Linked DNA regions of Homo sapiens. The protein of the gene in region 1 interacts with the protein of each later gene in a pairwise test. Each region holds a gene or a part of one and is shown in the gene's direction. Other genes may lie near its edges. The genes, in order: CNOT2, MTFR1L, GALNT10 and ARMC5.

What was found.
Region 2: the proteins of CNOT2 (region 1) and MTFR1L interact in binary tests that used the Homo sapiens proteins (3 or more experiments, as listed by UniProt).
Region 3: the proteins of CNOT2 (region 1) and GALNT10 interact in a two-hybrid assay, tested with the Homo sapiens proteins (one large-scale study listed by BioGRID).
Region 4: the proteins of CNOT2 (region 1) and ARMC5 interact in binary tests that used the Homo sapiens proteins (3 or more experiments, as listed by UniProt).

What each region holds. Positions count from the first base shown.
Region 1 is NC_000012.12:70,323,328-70,326,998, forward strand, and holds part of CNOT2 (CCR4-NOT transcription complex subunit 2), read left to right. Parts: intron 1-3,671. UniProt on the Homo sapiens protein: Component of the CCR4-NOT complex which is one of the major cellular mRNA deadenylases and is linked to various cellular processes including bulk mRNA degradation, miRNA-mediated repression, translational repression during translational initiation and general transcription regulation.
Region 2 is NC_000001.11:25,826,293-25,829,963, forward strand, and holds part of MTFR1L (mitochondrial fission regulator 1-like), read left to right. Parts: intron 1-9; coding exon 10-119; intron 120-322; coding exon 323-534; intron 535-3,216; coding exon 3,217-3,538; intron 3,539-3,671. UniProt on the Homo sapiens protein: Mitochondrial protein required for adaptation of miochondrial dynamics to metabolic changes. Regulates mitochondrial morphology at steady state and mediates AMPK-dependent stress-induced mitochondrial fragmentation via the control of OPA1 levels.
Region 3 is NC_000005.10:154,189,264-154,193,601, forward strand, and holds the start of GALNT10 (polypeptide N-acetylgalactosaminyltransferase 10), read left to right. Parts: upstream 1-1,469; 5' UTR 1,470-1,603; coding exon 1,604-1,762; intron 1,763-4,338. UniProt on the Homo sapiens protein: Catalyzes the initial reaction in O-linked oligosaccharide biosynthesis, the transfer of an N-acetyl-D-galactosamine residue to a serine or threonine residue on the protein receptor. Has activity toward Muc5Ac and EA2 peptide substrates.
Region 4 is NC_000016.10:31,465,071-31,467,824, forward strand, and holds the end of ARMC5 (armadillo repeat-containing protein 5), read left to right. Parts: coding exon of another isoform or gene 1-131; exon of another isoform or gene 132-779; coding exon 780-912; exon of another isoform or gene 913-990; coding exon of another isoform or gene 991-1,008; coding exon 1,009-1,819; 3' UTR 1,820-2,095; downstream 2,096-2,754.

The sequences.
Region 1 (3,671 bases):
ACTCAGTAAATCTTGAATGCATGATGAACAAGAAGCAGTCTCATATAATCTAGTAGGATAAGTACACAAATGATTTTACTATGTAGTAGAATAAGAAGTTCGAGGTTATTTGGATGTTTCAGATGAGATAGGGCACATTCAGGATGGTACGGCTGTAGACTATTTGGATATTTCAAAGACAGGAGTAATCAGGTATCTTGGAAAATGATTAGGAAAAGAATTTACTGATGAGATTATATTTGAGATTAGCATTGAACAGACTGTGAGTAAAGTTGTTTTAGCAGTGGGAATAACATCCACAGCATGGGATAGATTTAGGAATGGCCTACTTTATCAAGACAGGAGACACCTGTTAGGCTGTTATATTGATTTCAGCAAGAAGTACAGTCTTCACATTTCTGAGAGATTTATTTCAAGATCATTGCTACTTTTAAAGTTCAAGAACACAGCTATAGAATAACATTTTCCACCATAAAACATCCTTTTTGTGTGTGTGAAAACCATCACTTGATTAGACTATCTTATTTTATCTTCACTTTTGGTACCACCTGTTGGCTTTCTTTTCATAAGTATGACACACGCACACACACACACACAGAGCTAATATTTATTGAATATTATCTACTGTGTATCAGATGCGATTTTAAGTATTTATGTGAATTAACTCATTTAACCTTCACAGCAGCTCCACAAGAGTTTAAGGAATTTGTTCAAGGTTACACAGATTGTAAGTAGTAGAACCAGGATTATATTACTTTGTAAGAGTAACTATGTGAACATGAGCTGAAAACATCAGTTTCTTTGATACCTGAATGCCATGACCCTAGAAAGCCATTTGTACATAGTAGAAACTACCAGTGTTAAATCCACAGGTGCCAAGAATCTGTTGAATTAAGACATTGTGATAGAATGTATTCATTCTAATAATTATGTATTTATTGGGTGCCTACAATGAATGAGGTATTATTTCAAGATATAGATAAGAATATAGCAAATAACAAATGTCCTGTTTTTATGGAGAGAGAGAGAGAGAATGTTAGTAATACTGCAGTAGTCCAGGCAAAAAAAAATGGGATGACTTGGACTAGTGGAGGTGTTGAGAAGTGATCAGATTTGGTACATTTTGTAGATAGAGCTAACAGGACTTGATGATGTAGGAGTGAAAGAAAGGGATCAAGAATGATTTCTAAGGTTTCCGACCTGCAAACCTTTGTGAATGAGTGCCACTAATCTAGAGCAGAAATTTAGGTTGAGGAAGTGTAGAGTGTACTTGGGAGATCCACACAGCTATTCCACAGGTAAAGATTCTGTGGCACTCCTCTAAAGATCCAGCCAGATGTTGAGACTCTCAGCTGATTCGAGCACAGCAGCCACTTCTCATAGTTGTGGAAGCCACTTAGCTCCATCCATGTTTCTTGTCTTATACATTCTTAGCACCTAGAAGGCAAAGCCTGTTCCTCCGCCAGGTGTATAACTTGTCCTCATTTTCATATATCTCGTCATTCTCTCAGACTGAACTATTGTAACATTTATACCCACCTGACTCCCCACCACTGCCACCACCAAACACCTGGCTGAGTCTCATATGTTATTTAATTCATATACTATCTTCTGTCTCCTCCAGGAAAATTTTTCTGCTTCCAGACTCACTCTATTCCCAAGTCTGAGTTAGTGTGGTCCCTCCTACAAGCAGTCAAGCACGCTATGTCTACTGCATGTAAACACCTTGGTCATAGCACTTATTTATTTTTAAGTAGTCTTTTATATCTCTAGAACAAGAGAAGGGAAAGTATTCTTGCTGAGGAGTTAGATATGAGTAGTAAAGGACAGATTTGAGGAAAGGAATAGAGAAAGAAGAAAGAAGATTATAAATCAGATATGTAGTGTGTAAACAGAGTAAAATGCTTGTTAAGGTTAGAAAACATCTTTGGGTCTTGACAGAATTTTAATACTCTAGAACAGTGGTTCTCAACCCTGACTGCACCCATGGAAACACCTGGGGAATTTTTAAAATTCCACTGCCATGATTGCCCAAAATCACAATTGCTGGAGAGGAGACCTAGACATTAAAGTTCCCTGGATGATGCAAACATTATTAACTACCATTAAAAAATGGAAAATGATATTGGTTGCAAAAAAGGCATTGAAATAGGAGTCAAGAAATTGGATCATTGTCTTTAATGCCTCATTACTTGTGATCTTGAGCAAGTCACTTAATGCCTAGTGTGAATTCTTTATCTGTAACCTACTTGGATAATCTCTGGAGTCTTTTCTATTCTAAAATACTTTGAATTTAATGAAGAAAATTGCATAAGGAAATAATTTTACAGGAATCATTAACCAGCTAAGTGCAAGACAGGTTGAAGGTAAGAAGCCATTGAGATAAAGCACCATTTATGTTGTCCTTTTTAGTATGGGCATGCCAGTGAGTTCCTAGAGGAAGCTGGCTGCTTTGCAAATGGAAAAGGGGACACTTTAAGGCATCAGTTAAGGACTACTCTCTCCTGCCCCTATAAAGATTTTAGGGGACTTTATTTAAGTATGAATATTCAGGGATTTGGTTGCTATGATTTTATTTTTTCATGTAACTTAATATTTTTTATTTCTAGCAAAAAATTGAATAAAGAATGACGTATTTTGCCATAAGTGTTTAAGTGATGTGCTGTTAATCAGTTTGTGCAGTGGAAATAATTAATGGAATAATTTCTTAGATCATATTCTTTAAGGGTTTCTGAAAAATGATCAATAAGGAATTTGACTAACACCCTGCCAGATAAGAGGTAGGAATCTATTTAGAATGTGTTCGTATAGTCCTCCTAATATTGTGTTGTTATTATCAATTGTTAGATTGAAAGAAAAATTTGACTCAAAATTATAACCTTTTAAACTTTTTTTAAAATTTGTTTTTATTCTTTGTAAAAAGGTGATAACCTTTTTTATAAGATGATTATAAGAAGGAATTGAGAGGAAGTAGTATAGTGCTTTGTTGATAAGTGCCCAATAAATTTTAATTTTACTGTCCTTCCAGTCACCTGCTCATATACAAGCTCATTTATACATATTTATATTTTTGCCTGTTTTAGTTTTTTTATGCCAAGAAAAACTCCTTGAGTTCTTCCCATTTTTCTTTTTTTTTCTTTTTTTCAGCTGTATGTCCTATTCTTGGCATAATATTTTAGAGATGATTTTTCTGTGATTGTTTCTAATTATACTAGTGAGAGATTAGATTTTTTTCCCCTTGACCCTATTCAGTTGTGTTAGTTTGACTCAAGCAACTCAAAGTTAATGACTTAGTATATTTAGTTTCCAAAAAACAAATCTTTATATATACCTTTCCAGTGCCATTCTTTATGTTTTAAAGAAATTCAGTTTTTAAAATAAATTTAAAGTAACAATTATTAAGTATTCAGGGGTTGATGATCCAATTTGAAGTGATATATTCTTTTTTGATCTTTTTATACTACTTCAACAAAATTAAACTTAGACTTTTTGAATTTATTAGCTGTTTTTGTGAAGATTAATTTTAGAAAGCTAAAATTAAACACTGAAAGTAAGTTACTTTATTCCATACGGTCTCTGTCCAGTTTTAGCACTAAAATCAGTTCAAGGATGCCAATCCCTAATTGGCCAAATAGCCTTACCATTCTTGTTTTCTTCTCCAAATTTGTTTT
Region 2 (3,671 bases), on another chromosome or scaffold:
TCTCCATAGACCCTGCCCAACATCTCTGACCTGTGTTTGAGAGATGTGCCCCCAGTCCCTACCCTGGCTGACATCGCCTGGATTGCTGCGGATGAAGAGGAGACATATGCCCGGGTCAGGTAGTTGAGGCAGTAGCTGGTCTGCTAAGGAATGGAGAACTTCCCAGAAGAGGTGGCAGGCAGCAAGGAGAGAGGAATGAGAACTGTGGGCTCAGAGAGGAGCAGAACCTTACTATACTACTCTCACAGAAGTGGGGGAAGGAACCTTAGGAGCACAGTGGCCTGCTGTCTCTAACTGATCTACTTGGTTTTCCCTGGTCCAGGAGTGATACGCGCCCCCTGAGGCACACCTGGAAACCCAGCCCTCTGATTGTCATGCAGCGCAATGCCTCTGTTCCCAACCTGCGTGGGTCCGAGGAGAGGCTTCTGGCCCTGAAGAAGCCAGCTCTGCCAGCCCTAAGCCGCACTACTGAGCTGCAGGACGAGCTGAGCCACTTGCGCAGCCAGATTGCAAAGATAGTGGCAGCTGATGCAGGTAGGAGCCCCTGTGCCAGGGCCAGAACGTAACAGGCTGTTCCTTTCCCCTGGCTCTTGGGCAGGATAGGGGTAAAGAAAGTGGTAATCCTTGGTTTGCAGGTACTTAGGTTCCGGGCCCTGGGGTTGTCCTGAAGCCTGGCTAGCCAGTAGTGCCTCTTAGATGGTTTCTACCAGCCATTTTGGGCTGAATGGTTTGGTTAAGAACAAAATATTAACCTGTGACCCCAGGCAGAGTCCCTCCCTTAGCCCCCAAACTGATACCCTCTTCTAAGTGTCTTTAAGATCACATCTTACATAAGCCCACAGTAGCTTTTTTTTTTTCTCCTCTGAGTGAGTCTTGCTCTGTCGCCCAGGCTGGAAGTGCAGTGGCACGATCTTAGTTCACTGCACTCTGCCTCCCAGGTGCAAGCGATTCTCCTGCCTCAGCCTCCTGAGTAGCTGGGACTACAGGGGTGTGCCACCAGGCCTGGCTAATTTTTATATTTTTAGTAGAGACAGAGTTCCACCATGTTGGCCAGGCTGGTCTTGTATTCCTGACCTCAGATGACCCACCCACCTCAGCCTCTCAAAGTGCTGGGATTATAGGTGTGAGCCACCGAGCCCAGCCAGTTTTCCTTTTTTTGGAGACAGGGTCCTGGTTCTTGCTCTGTTGCCCAGGCTGGAGTGCAGTGGCGCAATCTTGGCTCACTGCAACCTCTGCCTCCCAGGCTCAAGCGATTCTCGTGCCTCAGCCTCCTGAGTAGCTGGAATTACGGGTGTGCACCACCACACCTGGCTAATTTTTTTATTTTTAGTAGAGACGGGGTTTTGCCACATTAATCAGGCTGGTCTCAAACTCCTGGCCTCAAGCAATCCACCCAGCTCGGCCTTCCAAAGTGCTAAGATTATAGGCATGAGCCACTGTGCCCGCGGTTGAAACAAGAGTCTCATTCTGTCACCCAGGTTGGAGTGCGGTGGCACGATCTTGGCTCACTGCAACCTCCACCTCCTGGGTTCAAGCAGTTCTCGTGCCTCTGCCTCCCGAGTAGCTGGGATTATAGGCGCATGCCACCATGCCCAGCTAATTTTTTGTATTTTTAGTAGAGATAGGGTTTCGCCATTGCCCAGGCTGGTCTCAAACTCCTGAGCTCAAGCAATCCACTTGCCTCAGCCTCCCAAAATGCTAGGATTACAACCATGAGCCACCGCGCCCTGCTTTCCTTTTCAATACAAGAAGTAAACATTCCCCCCACCACCACTGAGACTTACCCTTTTTAAGCACCTATCTTCCCTTGCCTTGTTGTTTCTACCAGGAATCACAAGTGGCTTTACCACTTCAGTTCTTATACTGCTAGTGACATTGTCCCCATGCCCCACCCTTCAAAGTGGGGAGTTTCATGACATTATGTTATGTTTTCTTATCTCAAATTGGTGGACTTTTTTGGTGGAAGGAGAATTTCATAAAGTTGGAGATCTTGGCCTTAAAATACAGTGGTCGGGCACTGTGGCTTACGCCTGTAATCCCAACACTTTGGAAGGCTGAGGTGGGTGGATCACCTGAGGTCAGGAGTTCGAGACCAGCCTGGCCAACATGGTGAAACCCTGTCTCTATAAAAAATACAAAAATTAGCTGGGCATCGCAGCATGTGCCTTGAACCTGGAAGGTGGAGGTGGAGGCAGAGGTGGAGGTTGCAATGAGCTGAAGTTGCACCACTGCACTCCAGCATGGGCGACAGAGTGAGACTCCGTCTCAAAAAAAGAAAAAAAAAAAACAGTGGTCTATTATGCAAACAAGCCCTGTAACCCACCCCTCCAGCTTTCTGTCTACAGTTAAGGCAGAACCACTGGAAATGGATGGGAAGCCTGCCTTAACCAGAGGCATGGACAGCCAACAGGTGGATCGCTCCCAAGATGCTCAGGGCTTATCTTCATATTCCTCCCATCCTCATTTTTTCACTCTGCATTGACTCAGAGTCATAGCTCTGAAATTTATCATTTGGTAGGACACATGAAAATCATGGTGTTCTTTGAAATCTTCATGTATTTAATTTCTTCACATGGAAGTTTTATGAAGAATTGTACTGAAACTTTGTTATTTCTTGGCTACTTTTTTGTCATCCAAGAGACAAGCAGAAGTAACATCTTTTTTAGAAACATAGTTTTTAGTGTATTTAGTGTTTTTAAAGTATTTTTAGAAATGTAAAAACTGAGGAAATTCTCTCCACTGAAATTTGGGGAGGTTGGGAGGTCTGTTACCATTCTGGTTTTGCTCAGAACATGTCTTCTAGTTCACAGATAGCAAGATTTCAAAGGAGCATAGTCAAAAGCACTAGTCTAGTTAGAGAAAAGGACAAATTCAGGCCTTAGCTCTTATCTCTGCTGCTTTGGCCTATGACAGGGCTGTCACTCCACAGCCTATTGTGGAATGGGAGCTTTTAAATGCCAAGGCCATTATGGGGCTGGGTTTTCCTGCCTTCCTGGAACACTGGAAAAGCCCAGTGCTTCTACAGCTTTCTGAGCCCCCGAGTGAGAAGCATAGTGGAATGACCCTCCACTGGCTACAGATACCATCCTGGCTCTCCCAGATTGTCATGGTGTCAGCCCAGGAAATGAATGTTCAGTAGGCAGGGCTGTGGGGAGAAGATATTGCTACTGTGTTCTAGCCCCAATGTCCACCCATGCCTATTGTTTTCTCTTTCAGCTTCGGCTTCATTAACGCCAGATTTCTTATCTCCAGGAAGTTCAAATGTCTCTTCTCCCTTACCTTGTTTTGGATCCTCATTCCACTCTACAACTTCCTTTGTCATTAGTGACATCACCGAGGAGACAGAGGTGGAGGTCCCTGAGCTTCCATCAGTCCCCCTGCTTTGTTCTGCCAGCCCTGAATGTTGCAAACCAGAACACAAAGCTGCCTGCAGTTCGTCTGAAGAGGATGACTGCGTCTCTTTGTCCAAGGCCAGCAGCTTTGCAGACATGATGGGTATCCTGAAGGACTTTCACCGAATGAAACAGAGTCAAGATCTGTAAGTATCTGATGAGGAGCTCTGGTATCTATTTACTCAGAGTTGCCCATGGCCAATTATGTAATGCAACATACTTACATAGTAAGTTCTTAGTAGTACCATATGTTATGTCATTCATAAAGCTTGCTGACTA
Region 3 (4,338 bases), on another chromosome or scaffold:
GGGCACGGCAGGAGACAGAACGTTTGATCAGCCCTAGCAGGTCATAGGAGAGGAGCATGATGGACTCTAGAGCCGAGGTGATGGAAGCCTTGAAGGTTTTGCTGCAGAAATCAAGAACTGAGCTGTGATGTCAGAAAACTGAATCCCCATCGCTCAGCCTGGAGCTGGAAGAACTTGGAGGCAAGAGTTGCCAGAACGCTGGTCAAGGACTAGTGGCAGCTAGGCACGAAGGTCAGCGGCTGAGCTAGAGAAGCAGAGAATCAAGAGGACGAATGTGGGGGTGGCAGAGAGTAAGGTAGCCAAGGGGGTGCTCCGTTCCACCGCATCAGGGAGGAGGCAGCTAAGTGACCAGCGTCGAGCGCCCCGAGGAGGAGCCGCTGGCTGGCATCACCGTCGGAGTCCGGCTCCACGGCCCTCCGCATCGCCCAGAAGCCCGACTCCTCTGTCAAAGCCCTCGCCACAGTTACAGACACATTGCCTGGTCTAGTGAAATTACGTGTTTCATGTTTCAGCTCCCAGACGTCAGGGCTCAGGTCTGTTTTCATTTCATCCCAGAGCCTGGCACAGTGTTTGGCACATAGTGGCGCTCGCCAACGGTTTGCTGAGAGCTTTCCGGGAAGGGCTCAGTGCGCTTAGGATCCAAAAGCACGCGTGAGAATGCAGGGCATTCTAACTCCAAGGGGGTTGGACTTGCGTGAGGAAAGGTGCTGCAGAGAGGCTACCGTCACTTACCCACCCGCCGGTTTGCAGGATCTACAGACGGGCGGCGGCCGGGCACAGCTCCCTACAGTTTGCAGAGGGCGTTCACACCTAACGCCAGGGCCCCCCTAGAGGAAGAAAACCAGGGCCCGCCCGCGGAACAGTGAGCGTGCAGCACGGCTGTGGCCCCGTTTCATGGCCGGGAACACCGAGTCGCCGGGGTCAAAGTAGGTCCGCAGGTCCTGGGGGCCGAGCCTAGGTGGGCTGGAAGTGACAGCCCCGGGGGCTCCAGGCTCAGAACGCCCGGCGGGGCCCCAGCACTATTTGCATATCCCCAGGGAGGCAGCAAAGGTTCGGCTGCAGTCCCGGGCGGAGGTTGCCGGGCGGGGCGGCAGGGTACCCGGGCGAGCGGACATGCACCCCACCCAGCGGTGCCCAGCCCGCACCAGTTAGCGCCCAACTCGCCAACTCCGGGACTTTCGCAAAGCTCCAGAGGGCGGGGGAGCCGCCGAGGAGTGGGACGGACCATCGCGGCTCGAGAGGGGGGAAGCGCTCCGGCCCGGCATCCTGCAGCGCCCGGGCGGGCCGAGACGCTCCGTGAGAGGGCCGAGCCTGCAGCGCAGAGACTCGGCGGTCGACGCGGGGGCAGGCGGCGCGGGGCGGGCGGCTCGGCGGGGCCCGGGGGCGGTGGCGGCGGCGACGACCCCCTCGTGGCGGCGGCGTGGTGGCGGCGCCCAGCTCCCCGGCCGGCGAGCGGCGGAAGTGCCGCGGAGTTGGAGCGGGGCCGGCGCCGCAGCCGCTTCTGCTGGCTGAGCTGCTGCCGCCGCCGGGCGGACGGGCGGACGCGCGGAGCTGGGGGCGGCGCGGCGGGGCCGGCGGGGCGCGGCGGGGCTGACCGGCCCCGATGAGGCGGAAGGAGAAGCGGCTCCTGCAGGCGGTGGCGCTGGTGCTGGCGGCCCTGGTCCTCCTGCCCAACGTGGGGCTTTGGGCGCTGTACCGCGAGCGGCAGCCCGACGGCACCCCTGGGGGATCGGGGGCGGCGGTGGCGCCGGCGGCGGGACAGGTGAGTCCCCCCGTTGCTACAGGCCGGGAACACCCCCTTCCCGAATTCACTTTTAGCCTGTGGTTCCTTCCTCCACCTTCTGCTGTCTGCCTCCTCAGAGTCAGCTCCGAGACTCTTCAGCTCTTCCCATTTTCCGGATGGGAAAATTAAGTCCTGTCGGGACTTGTCCAGGGTCCCACGCCAGTCAGAGACTGAGTCCGAACTAGCACTCAGGACGCTATTTCTCACCACATGTTACCACCTTCCTTTCTGTCCCCGTCTGGTATTCCTTGACGTCTTCCAGCGGATCTCTTTTGAAGGATCCTATCTGCATCCCTGTATCCCAGGATGACTCCTGCCTTGTGCCAATAGGAATGAAGATTCTGGTTCTTCTATTTGGTGTCCAGGTCCTCTCTGCTTCCCTCCTCCCACCCCCCCCCCCCCACAACCCCTACCTGCTGATCCCAGTGTTCTTTGCTCAGGTCAGCCCTTTTCCTGATTTCTCATCTGCCCAACGAGACACCCGGGCCTTCCTCCTCTCCCCATTTATTCAACACCCCCGCCCCAACTCTAGCCTTTTCCTTTCTCAGATCCTGTGGATTCCTTGCAGAATGTAAAGATCATGCTCCCTTTAAAGCTTCAAGCCCCTGGGGGTGGAGAAGGGGGTAAGCTCCTGGTCCTTGAGGGACCTGCTGCCTTTGACCTTATGGGAGTCCAGAGGTGGGGCTCTGGTGGGGGGACCCCCAAAATGTCCCAGAGGCTATTGGTGCCCAGTGTCCTGAGGATGGAACACCAGAAGCCTTCCCTATCTCTTCTGAACTTGTCTAGTCTGGTTAGTTGTAGTGTTTATTGCAGCCAAAACTGGGATCGGAATGGTTTCTGCCTCCTTTGAACTTACCCACGTATGTTTGTGTGTATGTGTGCGTGCACGCATTTAGACTAGCAGCTCCCTCATAGCAGAAGCTCTGTCACATCACTCCCACCCTCCCAGGAGGTGCTAGTGAGTGTATTGCTTAGACTGTTTCATATAGTGGAACATTTCAGGCTTTCTTACGGGATTTCTCTGGTCCCATGAGAAGTGGATAATTTGTGTATCAGGGTCAGACTTGACTGACTGTTGGCTGGCCTCGACGAAAGAGGCTGGCTTTTCTGAGATTGATGGTTTTCCTTATTCTTCCCAGTATCAGGCTGCTGTCTAGGCAGTCTGGCATCTGGAGCACAGAGGGCTCTTTGCTACAGAGCTGACCAATTTGAGCTCCGCCTGTAACTCTGTTAATTGCTGCAAAGCATCCCAGAGGGTCTCATTGATCTTTCTGGTAGAGCTTACTGTTTAGAAACTAAGGTTTCCATCTCTTTCCTAAACCCCTGGTTCAAACCCTGACAGCTAGCTTAGACCTCTCTCCCTGAAATTCTGTATCTGTATGGATTTTCCGTTCATGAAATCTCTTTCCTCTGTTCCTATTCAGTACCAGCATCAGAGTCAGGAGTTCCAGGGTTCTGACCTCAGCTCTACCACTAACTTACTGTGTGTGTCCTTGATCACCTTTCATCTCCTTTTCTGAGCCTTACTTTCTTGGTCTGTAAACCATGATTATTGGTCCAGTTCTAACATTCTGTGATACTATCAGTTAATCAATGAGGAATACAACGGTCCCTTCTTTTTTTCTGTCTTGAGTCCAGAGTTCCTTGTAGCATCCCTAGCTGTGGAGGCTCCATACTGGACACAGCTCCAGGTCAAGGGGGAGTGTCCTACCCTAGTGCAAACTCTCCTTTAGAATAGCTGTAGCCCATTCTAAAATAGTGCTTGACATTCTGCCTCTGCTTGGAGAAAGACCTCGTATTTCATTTGCAATAGATGCCAAAGACATCCTGATTTTCATTTCTGTAGACCCAGATGGGTAGAGAAGGTCAAGGTTAACTGCCAGTTTGGCCTGAGCTTTCAAAGTAAATTACTCACTTGTGCAAGAGGGTATTGATAGAGTAAGGCAGACTTTTGGGCAGGGAGAGAGAGGGGAGCAACAGCTGGGTGCTGCTCAGAGCCCCTAACTGAAATGGATAGACAGGCTCATCTGGGAAGATCTAGTTTTTGTTCATTTCTTTTTCTCTGGAATAGCATGAAGAGGAGGAGGAAGAAGTGGTGAAGGGGGTTTGGGGGTTTGGGGGGAATACCAACTGATTATTCTTGCTTTAAAGAAAATCTCTTTGCTTCATGGGAGCAGCAGAATGGAGCTGTTTCCCCAATGATAAGCTCTTCTAGGTGCTACAGGATTCAGCATTCATCTGCTGCCTTTCAAGAACGCCCTGCCAAATTTCCACACAGCCCCTTTTTGTTTCACTCTCCCACAGATGCAGAGCACTGGGCTTGGCCCCCAGTCCGTTGTTTGAATGTCAGCTGGCCTTGAGGAAAGAGGCTGACTTCTCAGAGTGATGGTGTTCCATCCCTCATCCCAGTGTACTGGAACATACATGTAACATGCCAGGCTGCTATCTGGGAAATCTGGCATCTTGAGCATACAGAGCTTTTTCAACAGGGCTGACCAGTTCTGAGCTCAGCCTGTCATTCTTGTAATTGTTGAGAATCATCTTTGAGCATCTCG
Region 4 (2,754 bases), on another chromosome or scaffold:
AGAGTTCTGCTGTGTCCTCTGCCCTAGCCCTGGGACCCAGATACCCTAACTCTAGATGCAGCCCCGCGCCCAGGATCTGGGCTGGTCTGTGCTTCTTTCCTGGCTCTGCCATTGGTTCAGCACTGTCCTGACTGCTCCCCACCAGCACGCTGACCTGTGAACCCCAGCCTCACCATCACCCCCAGCACTGCCAGGGACTGCCCTGTCTGCTGTGCCCTGACCACAGGCTGCTTCATGGCGTTACTGCTAGACCAAGGAGCCCTTCTGCTGGCCCTGTCCGGGCATAACAGAAGGCTCGCACTCTTGTCTTCTGGTCACACCTCACTATGTCCCCTCAGCTCCTATCTCTGTATGGCCTGGTTTTTCCCAGGTTATGATTATAGAGCGAGGATTATTACAATATTGGGATAAAGAGTAATTACTACAAACTAATGATTAATGATATTCATATATCTCTAAGATCTATATCTGGTATAACTATTCTTGTTTTATATTGTATTATACTGGAACAGCTCGTGTCCTCCGTCTCTTGCCTCGGCGCCTGGGTGGCTTGCCGCCCACACTTCAGGGGCCCAGACTTACACCCTGACTGTCCCACCTTCTGTCCTTGTCCTGGACCTCAGGTTCCCAGCGTCCCGAGCCCAGCACTGTCTCTTCAGTGCCCTGATTTCTCACCCAGAGGTTTCACCCTCCTTCATCTCACGGGCCCAGAGCCCTGTCTCACTCACCCCACCTGTCTTAGACCCCAGTTCCCAGCCTGACAAGCTTTCCACTCACAGGGGAGAGGCTACTGCAGAACCTGACGGTTCAGGCTGAGTCGCCCTTTGGGGTTGGGGCCCTGACGCACCTGCTGCTCTCTGGGAGCCCTGAGGACCGAGTGGCCTGCGCGCTGACCCTGCCCTTCATCTGCCGGTGAGTGGGAAGTGGGTGCCTTGCGGGGTTGGGGGAGGAGTGCTGTGTTTCCCAGGCCCGTTGCCCACCTTTTGAAAGGCCCTCTCTTCCCTGTAGGAAGCCCTCTCTGTGGCGCCGGCTGCTTCTGGAGCAGGGTGGTCTCCGGCTCCTCCTTGCGGCGCTGACCCGGCCGGCCCCACACCCGCTCTTCCTCTTCTTTGCCGCGGACTCCCTTTCCTGCCTCCAAGACCTGGTGTCTCCCACTGTGAGCCCAGCTGTCCCACAGGCAGTCCCCATGGACCTAGACTCACCTTCCCCTTGCCTCTATGAACCTCTGCTGGGCCCAGCCCCTGTCCCAGCTCCCGACCTGCACTTCCTGCTGGACTCAGGCCTCCAGCTCCCTGCCCAGCGAGCGGCCTCAGCCACCGCCTCCCCTTTCTTCCGGGCCCTGCTGTCAGGCAGCTTTGCAGAAGCCCAGATGGACCTGGTGCCCCTGCGAGGTCTGTCGCCTGGTGCAGCCTGGCCTGTCCTGCATCATTTGCATGGTTGTCGGGGGTGTGGGGCTGCCCTGGGGCCCGTGCCCCCACCAGGCCAGCCCCTGCTGGGTTCAGAGGCCGAGGAGGCACTGGAGGCTGCTGGCCGTTTCCTACTGCCTGGGCTGGAGGAGGAGCTGGAAGAGGCCGTGGGCCGCATCCACCTGGGACCCCAGGGTGGCCCGGAGTCAGTGGGTGAGGTGTTCCGCCTGGGCCGGCCCCGGCTGGCTGCCCACTGTGCCCGCTGGACACTGGGGTCAGAGCAGTGCCCGAGGAAGCGGGGTCTGGCCCTGGTGGGGCTTGTGGAGGCAGCAGGTGAAGAGGCAGGGCCCCTGACGGAGGCTTTGCTGGCTGTGGTGATGGGGATTGAGTTGGGGGCAAGGGTCCCTGCCTAGACTGTTGACGTCCCCTGGGAAGGGGACCCAAGGATGAATTGGCTGTGAAGGATCCTCCCTGAGACTGGCAAGGGAGGAGGCTGAGCAGAAGGAGTCATCATGGAGGAGCGGTGAGAACATGGAACCGGACTCCAAGATGACGATCTAAAGACCCGGGAGCGAGAAGCCAAGGCCAGGTTCTGGGTGTAGGGCCCAGAGAAGCAGAACAGCCCAGAGCCCCAGGTGCCTGGCCTGGCCTAGACCTCTGGAATTGAGATTAAACAATTTGGAGTTGGATACCTGTGTTGTGTGGTGTGTCTGCTTCTGTTTCTTCGCCCACCAAGCAGGGTCTTGTTCAGGTCTTTGTGTCTGGACACAGACCACCCTTGCATGTGACAGTTTAATAAGTACTGGGACAAGGTTGAGTTCCCAGGCTGCTGCTTAGGATGTGGTTTTGGGCCTCAGGGGAAGCCTGCTTCCTGCTGTCAGGGCCTCACTCCTCTGACATAGCAACCCAACTGGACACACAGATCTTGCTTGGGGCTGAAAGGGTTGTGCTGAGGGAATGCTGTTAGTCTGATGATGTGTTGAAGGCCTTTGCATTACTGACTGTTGCCCATCTTGGGCCCCCATTCTTTGGCTCCCTTTTCATCTCCTGGGCCACGTGTCCTACTGCTGTCTGTCTGAGGGAAGACCTGCTGTGGAGGGAATCTCTGAGCCCTGTCTTAGTCATGCCCAGAGACAGACAAAGACCTGTGCTGGCGTTGAGGGGAGGGAAGGGCTCACATTGCTTTGGTCTCCAAGGCAGGGTCTCCATCATCTGGCTTCCAGATCTTTTTTTTTTTTTTTTTTTTTGACTATTATTTTGCTTTAGATTCAGGGGGCACGTGCATGTTTGTTACACGGGTGTATTGTGTACTGGGGAGGATTGGGTTTCTAGTGAACCCATTACCCAA